Homo sapiens: one gene and its partners. The protein of the gene in region 1 purifies or fractionates together with the protein of each later gene. This does not show direct contact. Each region holds a gene or a part of one and is shown in the gene's direction. Other genes may lie near its edges. The genes, in order: EPHX4, LNPEP, SERPINA12, KCNAB2 and GOLPH3.

Region 1 (4,238 bases):
ACCCGGGAGGCGGAGCTTGCAGTGAGCTGAGATGGAGATCGCGCCATTGCACTCCAGTCTAGGCGACAGAGTGAGACTCCGTCTCAAAAAATAAAATAAAAAGAGTACTGAGAGAAATGTATAGGTGCTAAATGATTGCATTAGAAATTGCAAAGGTCTCAATAAGTTCCTAACTCAAGACCCTAGAAAAAAAGAGCAAAATACAGTTAACCCTCAAACAACATGTGTTTGAACTGTGTAGGTCCACTTACACATGGATTTTCTTCCACCTCTTCCCTCCCCCTCACCCCAAGACAGGAAGATCAACCTCCCTTCTTCTTTCTCCTCCTCAGCTTACCTAACCTGATGATGACAAGGATGAACACTCTTAAGATAATCCACTTCCACTTAATGAATAGTAAATGTATTTTCTCTTCCTTATGATTTTAACATTTTTCTTAATTATAAAGATACAGTATGTAATACATAAACATATGTTAATTGTTTTGGTCAGTAGTAGGCTATTAGTACTTAAGTTTGGGGGAACTCAAAAGTTATACATGGATTTTCAGATGTGAAAGGGTTCAGCAACCCTAACCCCCCGCATTGTTCAAAGGTCAATTGTATAACTCACACATGCTGAAGTAAATTCAAAATTGTACAGCCACTTTGGAAACCAGTTTGACAGTTTCTCATAAAAAATGAACACTTAATACCTGACCCGGTGATTGGGAAAAGGCTTAATGAAATTCTAACAGTGAACTGGACGATAGAAGAGGTCAGGACAAGAGTGGCCATGTCGGTGCTGAGGCTGAGATACCTACCGAGGACTGTCACTCTCACGGCTTCCAGCCCTTCGACGAACTCTCAGGTGTGTGGCCTTCTGGCCAGGCTTCTGCCGCGTCACGTTGTTGAAGCATTCGTTGTATCCCTGGGGTTGCAGCTCTCTGTAAGTTTGCTGTGGCTGAACCAGGCAAGGCATAGGCGGATTTCTACAGAAATTATGATTCCACGAAAGATTTTGAGAAGAGGAAGGCTGGTATCTTTCAGAGTGCAGAGTGATTTTGCACTCTAAAGAATCTCTTTGGGTGTAATAGCATGGAAGTTTGTCGCTGACCTGTGTCCCTGAACTATGACACACGAATATGTGGGCTTAGAAATAGTTTTGCTTGATACATTGAGAACAACAAAGAAGACTGAGTGGCGCTACCTTCTTTGGTGCCCAGGATGGTTTGGGAAAGTCTCGCCTTCATCCTCCCCCACAGTTTTGCGATTTTGAAACGGGATCTCGCTCTCCGCGGAAGACAGCCAAGCTCTGCACCCCGGCCTGGCCCGCCGCACCCCGCAGGCCCGGCTCTCCCCTGCGCGCTCCGGGCTGGGCGCGGCGCGTGTGCGGAGCCGCCGCGGTGACACGGAACGCCGGCCGCCCCGGGCCGGGGGAGGCGCGCGTCGAGAGGCGACGGCGGGCTGGCCTGGCGCGCTGCGGCGCTCGCTCACCCGCTCCCGAGGAAGGGCAGTGGGCCCCGCCGCCGCCTCCCAATGGCGAGGCTGCGGGATTGCCTGCCCCGCCTGATGCTCACGCTCCGGTCCCTGCTCTTCTGGTCCCTGGTCTACTGCTACTGCGGGCTCTGCGCCTCCATCCACCTGCTCAAACTTTTGTGGAGCCTCGGCAAGGGGCCGGCGCAGACCTTCCGGCGGCCCGCCCGGGAGCACCCTCCCGCGTGCCTGAGCGACCCCTCCTTGGGCACCCACTGCTACGTGCGGATCAAGGTGAAGGGCCGCGCGGGCCTGGCGGGAGCGGGAGGGAGCGTGACCGCCGCGAGGGTGGGGGGCTCCGGGCTTCTCCTTCCGAGACGCTGGCTCAGCGTCCCCTAGTGTCCTGGCAGGAGGGGAGGAGGGGTTGGGTCCCTGTGTGTCGTGTGTGTGTGTGTGTGTGTGTGTGTGTGAGAGAGAGAGAGAGAGAGAGAGATACAGATAAACAGCACTCGGTCTTTGCAGGCACCTTGATTGGTTTCTGAATGTGGAACTTCTCTAATCAGGGGCCTCTTATATTACTGCCCCCCGGCGCCACAACAACCCAGAATAAACCTGCTCTTTTTCCTACTGCAAGGGGAAGCTGTCTCCTGTCACCCTTTTGCCCTTTAGAGCTCAGATCAGCTGTAGAGAATTGTTCCTCGTGGCATCCTAATGTCTCAGGAGGCTGTTCTTGCCCAATTTTAGAGATAATAAGAGTAAACAGTCAGTCTTTGGGAGTCATGAGTTTATTATGATCACAGACGACTTAGGTTGCATGAAACAATAAGTAAATTGTGTGTGTTGTGGGGAGGAATGCATACTTATGAAGTCAGGGACCAAAGAAAGGAATGGAATAAAAGGTAAATCCAGCCATGCCTGCAGACGCTAATTGTTCAAGCTTCCTCACAGCCCACAAATATTCTGTTTCCTGAGGCTCCAGGTGGTGAAGGGAAATAGTTCCCGTGATACACCCTGCAGTCTGACTCACAGGCCTTTCAAACCCAGCCTCATAAGAGGGGATGTTTATGTCACCAAGTCCTTATTTCCTGTTAGGAGCTAAATTGCCCCGCAGCTGAAGTTCAGAAGGGCAAGAGAACTTCTTTCTTGCCTGGGGTCGACATGAGAATTAAATAGGTTAATATTTATAAAAACAAACACGAAAAACTTAGAACAATGCCTGATGCATAGTCAGTGCAATAAAGTATCTGTTAATTAAATCCATTGCAGTGCCCATAACATTTAATCCTCCAAGACTCACCACCAATAAAAAAAGTTATTGAACCTCTAGGAAGCCATCGTGCAGCTGAGGGTAAAGTCAGATTTGTTATCTCTGTTCAACCTGAGGGGTAAAAGTAGTATAAGAACCATCTGGAATTCCATAAAACACTTTTCCCCTCGCTCTGGCCGCCTAAAGAGCTTCCCCAGAGACAGAGAACCGAGTGGAAAGAGCATTGTCCTGGGAGTTAGGACAAGATGGAGATTCTGGTCACAGCCCTGCTCTCAACCATTTTATGACTCATGTTACCATCTTTGGGCCTCATCTTCTGAATCTGCAAAATGATTCTTTCACATCTGAAAACTCAGTTGCTTGAGTTGCCTGCTATAAAAACCCAATGTCTGTGTTTAGCTTTTGGTTCTTTTTGTTTCCTAGCTTGCTTGCTTTCAGAGATTTTTATTCCTGCTGTTCCCTCTACTTTCCTCAATTCAGCCTGCTTAGTATTTGCTTGAATTCCTGACTCATTCCCATGTTTTTTTAATTTTCCTTGGGTTTTCTTGTCTCCTACATGCAGAGTGAAGTCTTGAGCACTCAGGGCATTCTCTTATTAGAAACGCACACTGACATGACATGAGCAGGCAGCAAGGGGAACAGAACATGCAACACTCAAAATAATAATGTGGGAAGGAGAGACCTAAAAATAAGAGAAGGAGGTGTGAATTATATAACTGATGGCACAGCTCTTGACGGGCAAGCTGAGAAAAGTAGATGACTAGGATGTAAACATGGCAGAAATATAAATTCAGATTAGAATTATTTACATGTCCTGCAGCATTTGAGGGAGATGAAATGTGACACATCAGTAAGATGAAAGTTACAAATGGTAAGATGAAAGTTACAAATTGTGACATTGCTTCAGAAGCTCATAATATATAAATTGACTGTACTAGAACAAGAAGAGAAGGTACTGTCAAGGGAGTGTTGACAAAGTGAATCTGTCAATTTACCCTATTAATAGGTCATGGGGTTTGCTTTTCTTTTTGAAAATTAATAAAAGTAAATATATTTCTTGATGTTAAAAATAAGGCAACTGAGTGTCATGAAGATATTGTAAATACACAAATGTTTTAAAATAAGGCAAGTTACTATTTTTTTAATGAAATGGAAATGCTAAATATATTGCTTTGTCAATCAACACAAACATCACTAAAATTCCATGCCCTCTACTTTCAGGATTCAGGGTTAAGATTTCACTATGTTGCTGCTGGAGAAAGAGGCAAACCACTTATGCTGCTGCTTCATGGATTTCCAGAATTCTGGTAAGCTTACCAACTAACATTTATTGTTACATTAAAACTTGGCTTATTTTCTCAGTTCATTTTGTGCTGCTGTAACAGAATATCACAGTCTGGGTAACTTAAAATGAACATAAATGATTTTCTCAGAGTTCTGGAGGCTGGGAAGTTCAGGATCAAGGTGCCAACATCTGACAAGGGCCTCCTTGCTGCAACATCACATGGCAGAGGAG
Region 2 (3,523 bases), on another chromosome or scaffold:
TCTCTTCTTTTAGACCTGGGCTGGTAAGAAGTGCTGAAGATGTTTTTTAGAGATTTGTGGTATGACAAATTCCACTGGGGTTTCTGACCTTCTCAGTCATGCTTGTCTTGGGGTCACCACTCCTTGGCCCTCTCCTATGGCACCTGTCCCTCATTCTGCTCAAGCCCCTATGCCTTCCCAACAACTTGCCTTTAGCTCTGGGCAGATGTCTTTGCTTGCACTTGTCACAGAGAACATGAAGGCTCTCTGCTGTTTTGTGCCCATGCACATGCCTCTTCTCTGTCTTTACCTCCTGTCCTCCAGGCTTGGAGGGAGAGCACCTAGCTCCCATCATTTTCTTGTACACTCTCCCTGTCCCTCTGGATGCTACGCCAGCATTTTCCCTCCCCTACTCCTTCACCTCCACATTTTGTCTTTCTTTACTGTTCCTTTCCTGCAGAAATACATGCCCAAGTTGTTCCCATCTTAAACACAGACAAATGAAAAACAAAAGGATTTAAGTTTTGTCTATACCACATTTTCCTTTAGTTTATCCCTATGTTTTTTCCTTGATAAACTACTACATACCTTCAAAGAATAGTCTGCAGTCCTTGTTTTCTTTTGTTAACTTTCCATTTCTTCTTTGGGCCCCTGGAATCAGGCTTCTACTCTCACTATTAAAGTCACTGGTTCCCTGGTTACCAAATGTAAGGGTCTCTCTAGGCCTCATTTTACTTGACCTTTCTAAAATATTTAATGCTGGCCACTTTCATCTTTATGAAAGCTTTAGGTTTCTGGGATGCCACTCCTGATTTTCCTACCTTTGGTCCATTTCTTCTCCTTTGCTGACCTTCTTCCTCTGGCCACCCAGCTCTTAAATGCTGATCCTCCCTGAGTCTCCCTTTCGATAGTCTCATTTATCTGCATGGTTTTAATGACCATATCTGCACAGGTGATTCGGAAACCTGAATCTTCCACCCAGATCACTCTCTTGAGCTCTAAACCCACGTAACATAATCCTTTTAACAATTCTACAAAATAGCACTGTTTCCCACATTTATAGGTGAGGAAATTGAGGCTAAGAAAGGTAACCTGTTTGAAGTCAGTGGAAAAGCCAGGATTTTAACGTCTACCTAAAATCAGGCCTTTAACTCTATTAATCAAACATCTCCACCTGGTTATCTGACAGATATATCCTACACTGAATGCCATCTCATAATCCTGTTCTCCTTCCTTGCCTCAAAAAAAATTAGAAAATGTGAAAGACTATATTCTCAATCTCAGTGAATGACATTCCTTCTTTTCAGTTATACAAGTTGGAATGTAAAGGGAATTGACATAGACTTTTCTCTGTCTCCTACCCTGCAGGTCCATCTAGCCCGAGGTAGTATCAGTTCTTGTGCATCTACCTTTTTGACGTGACTTGTAATCATACCCTCCTCTTTATTCTCACTGCTACTGACATAGTTAAGAACTTTATCTTGACTGTTATTGCCATTATAGTGACAGTCTAACTCACTGCTTCTCACATTATCTGAGCTGAAGAACCAGGGTTTATTGTTTCTGTTTTTTTAATTTTTAATCTGTTGCAGAAATTTTGTAGCATATAAAAAAATTAATTAGAAAAATGAAATGAAAAAAGACATACAAAAATAGCTCAGTTTTATACATTATTAAATTCAATACACATAAAAATTACTCTGTCAAATTGTCATAAAAGTTTTTGGGTACTAATAGTCTATGTATATCCTGTCCCAGATGGGTCACACTTTTGCACATTGGCACTGGTCCACAAACAACATTGAGGAATGCTAGTTCACAGTATCTGATGAAAAGAAATGTCTTCAGTTCTCTTAGATTATAACCACATGGGCCTATGTTATTTAAAACTGAAACATTTCAGTAGAAGGTTCTTTGCTTTGACTTATAGATAGCTTCTATATGTGGATTTAAGAGGTTTTAGAAAATTCCCTGTTTCTTTAGGATCCCTTCTTTCAGTAGGAATAAATCCCATCGAGCAAGGGGTAATCATGTGTTATGTTACAATTTAATGCCAAAATCAAAGTGTACTGACTTAAGAATCAAATCAACATTTTCTTAAATAGGCTTGAAGTACCTTCATGTATCTTCATGGGATACCTGTAATAAAAGTGATTTTCCCTGATTTGATATATTTAACTTGATATGATTGTGCATACAAAAAAAAAACTGTGCTTCTATATTGCACAGTGAAATATAGCAAATGGGTTGATGTGATCTCCATTTCTGAAAGATTAAAATTCTACGTTGGTATTATTCTGACTGGGAGTGAAATAATAAAAGTAAGTTATTTGGATTTAGGCAGGCATCTGACTAAGCCCTTGTCAGAAGATTTGAAATTAATGACATGCAGACAGGAGATACCAAATTGTCAAACTGTAGAATATCTCTTGGCTTTAAATGGCATGGCAGAAGAATAAAAAAACACAGCAACAAAGTTCTAAGGGGACAGAATTGAGAGATTGGAATGCTCTAAATATTAAGCTGAGATTGTACCTGGAGTTAGTTCAGAAATATAGTAAATAAAACCATGCTGTACAGAACCCATTGTTGTCTGCAGTAGGCCTGACACAGAACAAAACACATGGGGCAAATGCCTGAGAGCATAATCTTCCCATGTGTGGTAAAAAAGTCAAAAAAGGCCTTTTTAGACATTTTTAAATTAAAAAAAAAAATTAAGCTAGTCTACAGCAGTGTGCCAGGAACCAAAAAACTACTACAGAAACTTTCTAATCATTAAGAGTTTTAAAAGCAATTTTAAAAAATTGAATACAGCAATATTTGCTCTGTTAATGAAGTGTATGACCCAAAACACTATTAACTATCAAAACAGAACATACTTTTTTTTTTTAACAAGAAATTGGGGCACTATAGGAAGTTTAGGAGATTATATTCCCAAAAGCAGTATGTTAGAACCCTTCTTCTTTCATAGTAGATGGGTAGATGGCAGAATGCTAAACTCATACCTAGAAAATGATTAGAAGTTTTATTCAAATAAAAATTTTAAAGTAGCATAACTTGTATACAGTTCAGGTTGGAGAGGAGTCAGGAAAAGGTAACCTCATTGTGATCCATATGCTCCCCAAAGCAGAAATGGGTGAAGTGAAATGAAAAGAAAGTTTATTTTTTAAAGGTAATAAAGACAAAGGAAAAACAAAAAAACATAACTTTTCTTAATTTGTGTTGTAGCAAGTTAAGCTGAGGTACGGAATACCAGGTGGATGGGCATGGGAAAGGGAGATGATGACACTGCAAGCAGAGGGAAGAGAAAAGAAAAAGAGACATGTGGAGGATAGCGTGGAATAGCTGCCTGGCCTGTGCTCAAAATAGTAAGCAGTTTGGGATGGCCAGAGCATACTCAGGAATGGTATTTAGTGCTGGCTGGGATCTGACCATGGAAGATGCTTATACCAGTGCCTCTCAAACTTAAGTGCACGTGAGCACCCGAGGATTTGTTAAAATTCGTATTCTAGGTGGAGACTTCAGAGGCTGCGTTTCTAACAAG
Region 3 (4,031 bases), on another chromosome or scaffold:
GGCACTTAGGTTGGTTCCATATCTTTGAAATTACGCAACATGTGTGTGCATGTGTCTTTTTCATATAATGATTTCTTTTCCTCTGGGTAGATACCCAGTAGTGGGATTGCTGGATGAAATGGTAGCTCTCCTTTTAGTTCCTTAAGGAATCTCCATACTGTTTTCCATAGGGGTTGTAGTAATTTACATTCCCACCAGCAGTGTAAAAGTGTTCCCTTTCACCACATTCATGCCAACATCTATTTTTTTTATTTTTATTTTTTACTTTTTAATTATGGCCATCTTGTAAGAGTAAGGTGGTATCTCATTGTGGTTTTCATTTACATTTCCCTGATGGTTAGTAATGTTGAGCAAATGCTCTTTTTTTATATCCTCTGTTGTTCTGCTCTTCTACCAGCATCTAGATCTGGCTTGAATGACATTTAGCACGGACTTGGGTCTATATTATTTTAAGTGAAATTGATTGACAGCATGACTTCCAATAGTTTGGCTCTCTCAGGCAACCACAGATCCAATGCAGTCTCCTATTGCCCATTGTACAGGTGAGTACACTGAGAACCAGAGGAAGGGATGGCTTCTCCAGCCACCAGGTGCATTATGAGTCACCTATGTCTGGTACCCAGACCACAGGCCCAGGCCCTGAGACGTCCCAGAGCTCGGGAGTGGGGTGGGGTTGGATGGATGGGCTGCCTGCTCCCAGGCTGCACCTGGGAGGTGAGAGAGGGCCATGTGAACATCTGTGCCAGGCGGCTGGTATTCTATAGCAGTGCCAGGGTGCCCACACCCATTCCTGTCCTGTCCCAGGGAAGGAATCTGGGGTGGACGATTCTGCTCAAAGATGATCACAGGGATCAGGGCTGTGGAGCTGGGAGGGGATGGCGTGTGTCACTCTGGTTTCTGGTGCACTCACTTTTATGAGGTTTACTGGGTGCCAAACACTCAGGTCCTAGCAAGCCAGGCCCTCATCAGTGAATCTACAGAGCACCTTGGGTGTACCTAGCACAGTGCCCCTTGCTATTTGGGATGGGAGAGAAAAAGTAGGCCTGATCTTTCCCAAGGGGTGAGGAAGGGAACTCCCAGACGCATTGCTCTCTGAGTGAGACACTTGGCAGGGCCAGTTGGCCAGGCTGATCCTGGGAAAGGGGTGGAGGTGGCAGAGGCAGGCTTAGTAGGTCGTTGGGCAGAAGTCCACCCAGTTTGTAGATAAGGCTTGTGGGGCTGGGAGCCTAGAGGAACATACCTGGAACCTGAAGGCTGCAGGACCAGGACCGAAAAAGGACTAGGAGGCTGGGATCAGCAACAACTGGGGAAGGCCAAGGAAGACTGACCTGAGGGGAAAGGAGAAACTGGGGAGGTGAGGTTAGTCCAAGGGGCAGTGTGTGTGTGTGTGTGTGTGTGTGTGTGTGTGTGTGTGTGTGTGTTGTCTGTTTCTCTGTCTTAGAGAAGACAACCAAGGGCCAAGGTGATCACTCAAATAGACAGACATTCTGCGTCCTTCTCATGCCTAGCCCTAGGGCTGGATCACCAGTCTGGCCAAGAGTTCCATGGGTCTGTGCTGGCTGCCAAGATGCTGTGGCCATGCTTTCATTTATGGTCTACCAGAAAGCTATCCATGGAAAAAGGGATTCAGAACCAGAAGACCTGATTTTTGAGTCCTGAATCTGCTAACTGTGCAGCTATAGGAAACTCAGATTTCTCATGTGTAAAAATGGGTCTAGCAGCACCCAAACTTGCAAAGTTGGTATGAAAAATACATAATGTCTATGAATAACCGTATCTACTAATATGTGCATGGAAGTACCCTGTTCTGCAGAGACAAAGACAAAGAAGAAAATAAGATGAGGAAAATCAAAGCTGGCCCCCACCCACAATGTTTCAATGCATATTTACCCAAATTTTTTACTTTTTGCTGATTGAGAAACACATGTGGTTACTTATTGATATATATAAGAACTCTTAATTGTTAAGAACATTAGCTCTCTATCTTGTACACATGTTCCAATTTGTGATTCCAAATTTTACATATTCTGTAGAGTTTTAACACGTTGCAAAAAGATGGTATATCCATATATGCCATCTTTTCCTACATGGTTTCTGGCTTGTGTATCACACTTAGGAAGTTCTTTTTCACTCTAACATTATGAAAAGGTTTTATTCCAACACTTGTAATTTTATTTTTGAAATGATTTGTTTGTTTCCTAATAGCATTTATGGAATTGTTCACCTTTTCTCGAATGTTCTGAAATGCCATCTTGAATTTTTTACTATTTACAGAATGCTTCCCATTAAAAAAAAATTTTCTAAATTTTCTATTTCTCTCCTTTTATTTCTTACTTGTTTAGATTTTTGTGTGGAAAGATTTTCAACATTTTGTACTAGAAGCTTTTTAGGGTAACCTAGGATCTTACCGGAGATTGCTTAAAAATATTTTCTTTCAAAATCAATTATTATTAATTTTAAATCATTTATTGATTAAGCTCCCCAATTGGAGTTGAATTCAATGACTGAAAATACATTGCATTTACTCAGTCTTTGCCTTATTGCTTGGAGGTACAGTATAATTTGTTCTAGTGGGATTTGGGCTTTGCAGTGTTTCACACTCTTGGTCACTGGCTCCCATAGCTGTCTGTCACAAGCATCAACTGGGGATCCTGTGGAAACCAAAGAAGAGTGGGGACACCCAGGGAAATGCAAAGTATGATCTGGGATGGTGGCCAGGAATCTCTTTCTCTCTCTCCCTTCTCTACTATAAATGGACATCTGGGTTGTTTCCACTTTAGGTCTATCACATAAAGCTGCTATGGACATTGCAGTACATGTCTTGGTAAACCCACAAGCACTCATTTCCTGTTGGGCATATACCCTGAGGTACAATGAATGGGTCAAAGGGTAAGCATATGTTTACCTTTTATAGATCCTGCCAAGCAATTTTCCAATCAACACGTTGGTGTCGGTTTGCACACCCACCCGCAATATAAGAGAGTTCCACTTGCTCCACGTCCTCGTGTGGCTGGTCCTTTTAATCTGAGCTATTCTAGTGGGTGTGTAGTGAGTTCTTCTTGTAGTTTTGTTTTGCATGTTTCTGATGATTAATGATGTCGAGCACCTTTTCAGCTGCTTATTGGCCATTTGGATATCTTCTTTTGTGAAGTATTTGTTCATGTCTTTGCTTAGTTTTTAAGTTGTTGTCTTTTTTCAGTCGATTTGTAGAAGTGCTTAAAAACAGGCATGAGCCTTTTATCAGACACAGACATTACACGTACCACTCCCAGCTTGTGACTTGCCTTTGTACTGTCCTAGGTAATTTTAGAGGAACAAGGCTCTTAATGTTAATGAAGTTCCATTTATCATTTTGTAAAAATGGTTAATACTTTCTGCCTATCTCATGGTCACAAAGATTGTCTACTATTAATATATTTTCTTCTAGAAGCTTTATCATTTTGATTCTTGTGGGTTTTGAGGTTAAAAAATATTAAAGACCAATAGTTTCATATAGTCCAATCTAATACCTTTCACATTTAGGTCTGTGACTTCTCAAATTAATTTTTGTATGTTGAGTAAAATAGTCACTATTTATATTTTTCCTGTATGGACATCCACTGGTGTTTTGTTGTTGTTGTTGTTGTTTTCATCATTCATTGAAAGGATCATCCTTTCCTTTGAACTGTAGCGATGCCCTTGTCACATATCAGGTGACTTCCTGTGTGGCTCTGTTGGATTCTCTAGTCTGTTCCATTGGTCAGCTTGTCTGTCTCTGTTCCAATACCTTAATACTGTGGCTTTACAGCCATCTTGATACCTGGTGGCTGAATGCTTTAAAAGACCTGGGAATCATCAGGTGGGAATCACTTGCTTTGGAGTGGGATTCTCAACCTTGAGTACTCATTAAATCCCCTGGAGAGAAGTTCTTAAAGGCACCCTCACCCAGGATTTATCCTGCATCAACTAACTCAAAATCTCTAGAGGAATGTTCTGAAAATAGGTATTTCTAAAGCTCCTGGATGATTGTAATGCACTCCCAGGATGGAAAC
Region 4 (3,523 bases), about 86 Mb from region 1:
GTGAGAGATGAGGACGTCGGGGATGAAGGAGGACCCCCCAGGGGCCGGGCTTATCACACCCCTTCTTTCTCTTCTGTTCCACAGGCGGTCCAGCCTCGTCATCACCACCAAGATCTTCTGGGGCGGAAAGTAGGTGCAACAGCTGGCGATGCTTCCAGCCCCGGCCCAGCAGCCACGGCCCCGTGCTCCCCAGAGACCCCTGACCTAGAAGGCTCCTGGGGTGGCGGGAGGACAGTCCTCCTTGAGAAGGGAGAGTGGTCGGGGTCTGTCCTGGACAGGCCCCGGCCCAGTGCCATTTCCTGTCCCCAGCAGGGGCAGAGCTGGTGTTTCTGCAGCCATCAGCTATGCCTGGTGCCTGTCCCTGTTAAGGGACGTCAAATCCAGAAAAGAAGCTGTGGCCGAGTTTGCCTTTTACAAAAACCTCGCTTAACTTTCCTTTTTACTCACATGGATTATTTTTTCCTGGTCACTATGGTAACATCATAAAAATTATAGAGAAAACAGAAAATTTGTGAACTGCCCAAACCCCCAAAGCACTCCAAATTCCCTGGGCCGCCTGTCACCCCTGCAGGTCTCCAAGTGTCTAGCTCCATAGTTTCTGGGCTGGACACACTTGGGCTCATAGGAATTATAACTACGATTCATTCATTCATTCTTTTTTTTATTTTTATTTTGTTTTTATTTTTTATTTTTTTGAGACAGGGTCTCGCTTTGTAATCCAGGTTGGAGCGCAGTGCCACAATCACAGCTCACTGTAGCTTCAAACTCCTGGGCTCGAGCGAGCCTCCCACCTCAGCCTACAGGGATGAGCCACCATGCCTGACTAATTTGTCCTTTTTCTCTCTCTCTCTTTTTTTTTTTTTTTTTGAGACAGGGTCTCACTTTGTCACCCAGGCTGGAGTACAGTGGCGTAGTCCCAGCTCACTGCAGCCTCAACCTCCTGGGTTCAAGTGACCTTCCTGCCTCAAGTAGCTGGTTCTACAGGCACATGCCACCATGCCCAGCTAATTTTTTTATTTTTATTTATATTTTTATTTTTGTATTTTGTAGAGATGGGGTTTCATCATGTTGTCCAGCCTGGTCTCAAACTCCTGAGTTCAAGTAATCTGCCCACCTCAGCTTCCCAAAGCACTAGGATTGCAGGCGTGAGCCACCACGCCTGGCATTAATTTGTCCTTTTTTAAGATATGGGGTCTCACTATGTTGCCCAGGCTGGTCTTGAACTCCTGGGCTCAAGTGATCCTCCTGCCTTAGCCTCCCAAAGTGCTGGGATTACAGGCGTGAGCCACTGTGCCCAGCCTGATGTGTTCTTAATTTAAAAAATAATAATAATAATAATAATAATAATAAGTCCAAATCAAACAGACGGGTTAGGTTGAAAATCAAAGCCCCCCACCCCCTGCTGCTGCCCCCCTCCCCTCTGAGCCCTGTGACCAGGCCTCTCCCTGGGCCTCTGGGAGTTCAGCCCTGTAGCCTCGGGTCCCTACCCCCAAAGTGGAATCCGACTCCACACGGCATTTGCTGACCCTGTTTTTGCGTCTAACATTGCATCGTAAACGTTTTTTGGGAGGGGCCAGGGTGCCAAAACCGCTGGTGACATCACACGCGGTCGGCCTGTTTTCCAGGGCGGAGACGGAGCGGGGCCTGTCCAGGAAGCACATAATCGAAGGTGAGGACGCGCTCGGGCACCTCAGGGCCCCCATACCTGTGGGATCATCCTCGGAGGCCAAAGTGATGGCAGCACAGGGCCCGACCCCCCCAGTTAACCCACTGAGGGCCCAATCCCGGGGCACCCGGTGCTCTGGCCTGACCTTCTCCTTCCACCCAGGTAGCACAGCGGGACGCTGCAGAGAACGAGGGCAGCCCGGTGGCTGAGCACAGACCACAGACCAGCCTGGGTTTCAATCCAGGTTTGGCCCCACACTGGCTGAGTGGGTCTTCAGCAGGGGCACCCTGCCCCATGCCTCTGCCACAGTATCTGTGCAATAGGGACAGTAAGAGCGCACCCGGCGAGGGTGGCTGGGATGCCTGCAGCGCCCAGGAGAAGGTGCCACACAGCCCGGGGCTCAGCACTCGCAGGCACCGGAGCAAGGCACCGGGGTGTCTGGCTCTTGCTGTATCTTTATTGTCTTCATGCCTTTCCTGTCCGTGTTCATTTTCTTCGAGGTAATAGATCATTCCATTGAAAATCACCTGGCGGGGCAAGCCACCCACTCCCATCCTCCCCACCCCAACCCAGCGTTTCACTCTGCCGGCTGTGTGTCCTGAGCTGCTCTAAGCACCAGCGGGTGGCTTGGGCGTTTTAGACACTATTGCCATTGTTTTTGTTTTTGAGATGGAGTTTTGCTCTTGTTGCCCAGGCTGGAGTGCAGCGGCACGATCTTGGCTCACTGCAACCCCCACCTCCTGGGTTCAAGCAATTCTCCTGCCTCAGCCTCCTGAGTAGCTGGGATTACAGGTGCCCACCACCACATCTGGTTAATTTTTTTTGTATTTTTAGTAGACACAGGGTTTCACTATGTTGGCCAGGCTGGTCTCAAACTCCTGGCCCTCAAGTGATGCGCCCGCCTTGGCCCCCCAGAGTGCTGGGATTACAGGCATGGGCCACCACGCCCGACCATAGACACTATTGCCTTTGATGGGACGGGCAGCAGGTGTAGCCCTCCCTCCACATGTGATAGATAAAGTCATCTCCCTGTTGTAATACACAGTGGCCTCAGAGGAGGGTATATTGTCTGAGGGAGGAGGGGCTTCCCCTTCATTTAGTCAAGGACACGTGGCCTGTGGTCCCCCGATGTCCTCCTGAAGGGAAGATCCCCCCACTCCCTGTGGGATGTGCCCCCACCTCTGCCGTGGCATTTCACGACCTCCATCAGCTTCTGGAAGCTTCCAGATGCCAGAGGCCTCTTCTCCATCTCTTGTTCCCTGAGCCGGGCATGGATGGGCCCAGGTGCCTGTGGAGATGGAGCCACAGCAGTGACGCCCCCCCACCTGGTCCTCCCCCAGGTCTGAAAGCTTCCCTGGAGCGACTGCAGCTGGAGTACGTGGATGTGGTGTTTGCCAACCGCCCGGACCCCAACACCCCGATGGAAGGTAGGTGGTCTGCGGCGGCGCCACCGGTTAGGCCTGGGCGGGGTCTGAAGGGTCTGAACCTGGGGTTGTAGAGGCCGCCAGCATGGGCCCTGCTGGGCACCCGGGTGAGCCGTGAGAGGAGGCCGGGTCCAGGGTGGGGGGCGAGGGGGCAGGCCTCCCCTCAGTAGGGGGTGAACTCAGCCTCTGGCTGCAGACCCCTCGCCAGGTGCACCTGGCACCTCCAGGCTGAGTCCCTGTCCTGGCTTTGGACCCAGGCCGATCCGCCCTCCGAGTCAGAGCCGCAGTGGAACTGTCCCCTCCCCTCTGCGGCTGCTATTTTGCAGCTAAGTGAAGTCGCAGTGTGGGGACTCCAACTGCGGTGTTCTCTCCAATCACCATCCATTGGGAAGCTTGGGGGGACTTTTTTGCTCTGGGGGATAAATTACTACAT
Region 5 (2,575 bases), on another chromosome or scaffold:
AGAACTTGATATTTAATCCTCGTAATAGCCCTATGAGCTTGATAAATTTGTTACTTTCACTTTATAGATGAGTAAATGGAGAAATAGATTAAGATGACTTGCACTAGGACACTAGGGTTTTTTTGGTTTTGTTTTTTGGGGGTTTTTTTGTTTTTGTTTTTGAGACAGTCTTGTGCTTGTCACCCAGGCTAGAGTGCAGTGGTGCAATCTCGGCTCACTGCAACCTCCGCCTCCCGGGTTCAAGCGATTCTCCTGCCTCAGCCTCCCGAGTAGCTGGGATTACAGCCACCTGCTACCATGCCTGGCTAATTTTTGTATTTTTAGTAGAGACAGGGTTTCACCATCTTGGCTTCCCAAAGTGCTGGGATTACAAGCGTAACCCGCCATGCCTGGCCCCGGCTAACTTTTGTATTTTTTGTAGAGACGGGATTTCACCATGTTGCCCAGGCTGGGACTGTTTCTGTTGACTCCCCCCTTACCCCTAGTTTTAGGTCACTTTTTTGCTGCTTTGCAAGTTTAGTGATTTTTTTTTTTTTTTAACTTCGATGCTGGACAGTGTGAATGTTAAGTGATGAATTTTATGGTCTTTCTTTAAAGAGTGTTGAATTTTGTCTTGGTAGGCAGCTAAGTTACTTGTGGATCAACTTGTTTTTAATTTTTTGTTTTTGTTTTTAAATTGTGAGATGGAGTTTCACTCTTGTTGCCTAGGTTGGAGAGCAATGGCACGATCTCGGCTCACTGCAACCTCTGCCCTCCCCCGGTTTAAATGATTCTCCTGCCTCAGCCGTCCGAGTAGCTGAGATTACAGGCAACTGCCACGATGCCCGGCTAATTTTTTGCAGTTGTAGAAGAGATGGGGTTTCACCATGTTGGCCAGGCTAGTCTCGAACTCCTGACCTCAGGTGATCCACCCGTCTGGGCTACCCACAGTGCTGGGATTACAGGTTTGAGCCACCGCGCCTGGCCGCTTTTAATCTTTATTAGGGCATGTCTAGGGTGGTCTATACTCTAGGACTGGTTTAGCCCTACTACTAAGATGTGAATTTTCTAGTATTCCTTCTGAATGTCCTGGTTTTTAGTGAGGCTTTTGCTCTCTGGCTAGTTGGCAATCACATTTTTCCCAGCTCTACTGAACTCTTAGAATTGTTCACTTTCTGGTAGGTGTTCTTTGCCTAGCTTTGTGGAATTTCTCACCCTAACACATGTAGCTTTAGCTTTCAGCCCAAGACTCAAGGAACACCTTGCAGATTTCTAGACCTCTTTATCTGTGTAGGTCCCCCTTCTCCAGTAGTCTGCTTTGCACACTGCAGCTGCCTTAGCTACCCTGAACTCTGATCTCTGCTGCCTTAACGTGATGGGACTGCTGTGCTCTGCTTGGGTTCTTCCTGCCTGCTCTGCTGCCTGGGACGTGCCTCTAGGTGGTAAGCTTAGGCAGTTGTCAGGCTCACATAGGCTGCACTCAAGTGTCACAGTTCTGGGCTGCTTTTGACTAGTGTCTGAAAACAGTTTTTTCGTATATTTTATGGAGATTTCTAATTACAATGAGAGGGCAGCTTTAGGAATGATTACTTCATCATAGGCCTATGTTGTTTAGTATTAAGTATAGGAAAATAATTGTGTCTCTGTCCAGTTGAATGGTAATATATTTTAAGACAGCAACTTAAAATTTTAAGATAGTCCGCTAGAACTTTCTTTGATGATGAAAATGTTCTGTTCCTGTGGGGTGTAGCCACTGGCCATACGTCACTATTGTATACGTGAAATGTGGCTAGTGCCACTGAAGAGATGAATTTTTAAATTAATTTAAATAGCTCTATGTGGGTAATGGCTCCTGTAATGGACAGTGTGGCTGAAGGTTTTCTCTCAGTATTAGAAAATCTCGACCTTACAACGTTTGCATTTAAAAAAGATGCCTGTGGTTGATCTTTAACATATTCTAATTTAGAAAAATATAGTTTTTTTAAGTATAAAAATAGTTGCATGTTCATTGGAGATCATTTGGAAAATGCAGAAAGCACAAAAAAAGTTGAGCACACATAATCCCAAAGATAAGTAAGATTAATATTTTGGTGTATTTCCTTCCAGTTTTCTATAAAGAAGAACCCACTTTAGTGAAAAATCGTTTGGTTTTATTTTAAATATTTCTCTCTCAAAAGGAAATATGTATGGATGGCAAGGTTAAAATTGTGAAAATTTGTATCCTTCCAGAATTAGCTTTATATTGTTATCAAATAATAGCATGGCCTAAACAGGCTTTCCTACCTCTATAGGCTGTATATGTGTAGCAGTTTCAGGAATAACATATTAATCAGGAAGCTTTTTTTTTTAGTCTATTAGTTGCAGACTGGTGTTTAATAGAAAACTTATTTGGCTATTGGCTGCTTTTTGACTTCAGCTGGAAGGAAGCTCAAACATAATATTTGGCTCATTTCCACATAAGACTAAGGGTTACTGACTCTGGTCTGAAGACTGCTTGCAGTTTAGTCGTCTGAGTGACTCCTGTGGCTGAGGATGTGCTGGGTGCTTAGAATCCAAAGGTCTGGCTAGGCTTAAGGGGTTCATGGTCTAGTTAGGG

Evidence for each region.
Region 2: the proteins of EPHX4 (region 1) and LNPEP purify together in Homo sapiens (co-immunoprecipitation; one large-scale study listed by IntAct). This does not show direct contact.
Region 3: the proteins of EPHX4 (region 1) and SERPINA12 purify together in Homo sapiens (affinity purification with mass spectrometry; one large-scale study listed by BioGRID and IntAct). This does not show direct contact.
Region 4: the proteins of EPHX4 (region 1) and KCNAB2 purify together in Homo sapiens (co-immunoprecipitation; one large-scale study listed by IntAct). This does not show direct contact.
Region 5: the proteins of EPHX4 (region 1) and GOLPH3 purify together in Homo sapiens (co-immunoprecipitation; one large-scale study listed by IntAct). This does not show direct contact.

Annotation. Positions count from the first base shown.
Region 1 is NC_000001.11:92,028,562-92,032,799, forward strand, and holds the start of EPHX4 (epoxide hydrolase 4), read left to right. Parts: upstream 1-1,423; 5' UTR 1,424-1,518; coding exon 1,519-1,749; exon of another isoform or gene 1,750-1,826; intron 1,827-3,943; coding exon 3,944-4,029; intron 4,030-4,238.
Region 2 is NC_000005.10:96,974,069-96,977,591, forward strand, and holds part of LNPEP (leucyl-cystinyl aminopeptidase), read left to right. Parts: intron 1-3,523. UniProt on the Homo sapiens protein: Release of an N-terminal amino acid, cleaves before cysteine, leucine as well as other amino acids. Degrades peptide hormones such as oxytocin, vasopressin and angiotensin III, and plays a role in maintaining homeostasis during pregnancy.
Region 3 is NC_000014.9:94,506,670-94,510,700, reverse strand, and holds the start of SERPINA12 (serpin A12 precursor), read left to right. Parts: upstream 1-1,231; 5' UTR 1,232-1,359; intron 1,360-4,031. UniProt on the Homo sapiens protein: Adipokine that modulates insulin action by specifically inhibiting its target protease KLK7 in white adipose tissues.
Region 4 is NC_000001.11:6,087,383-6,090,905, forward strand, and holds part of KCNAB2 (voltage-gated potassium channel subunit beta-2), read left to right. Parts: intron 1-84; coding exon 85-129; intron 130-1,625; coding exon 1,626-1,669; intron 1,670-3,006; coding exon 3,007-3,093; intron 3,094-3,523.
Region 5 is NC_000005.10:32,126,767-32,129,341, reverse strand, and holds part of GOLPH3 (Golgi phosphoprotein 3), read left to right. Parts: intron 1-2,575. UniProt on the Homo sapiens protein: Phosphatidylinositol-4-phosphate-binding protein that links Golgi membranes to the cytoskeleton and may participate in the tensile force required for vesicle budding from the Golgi.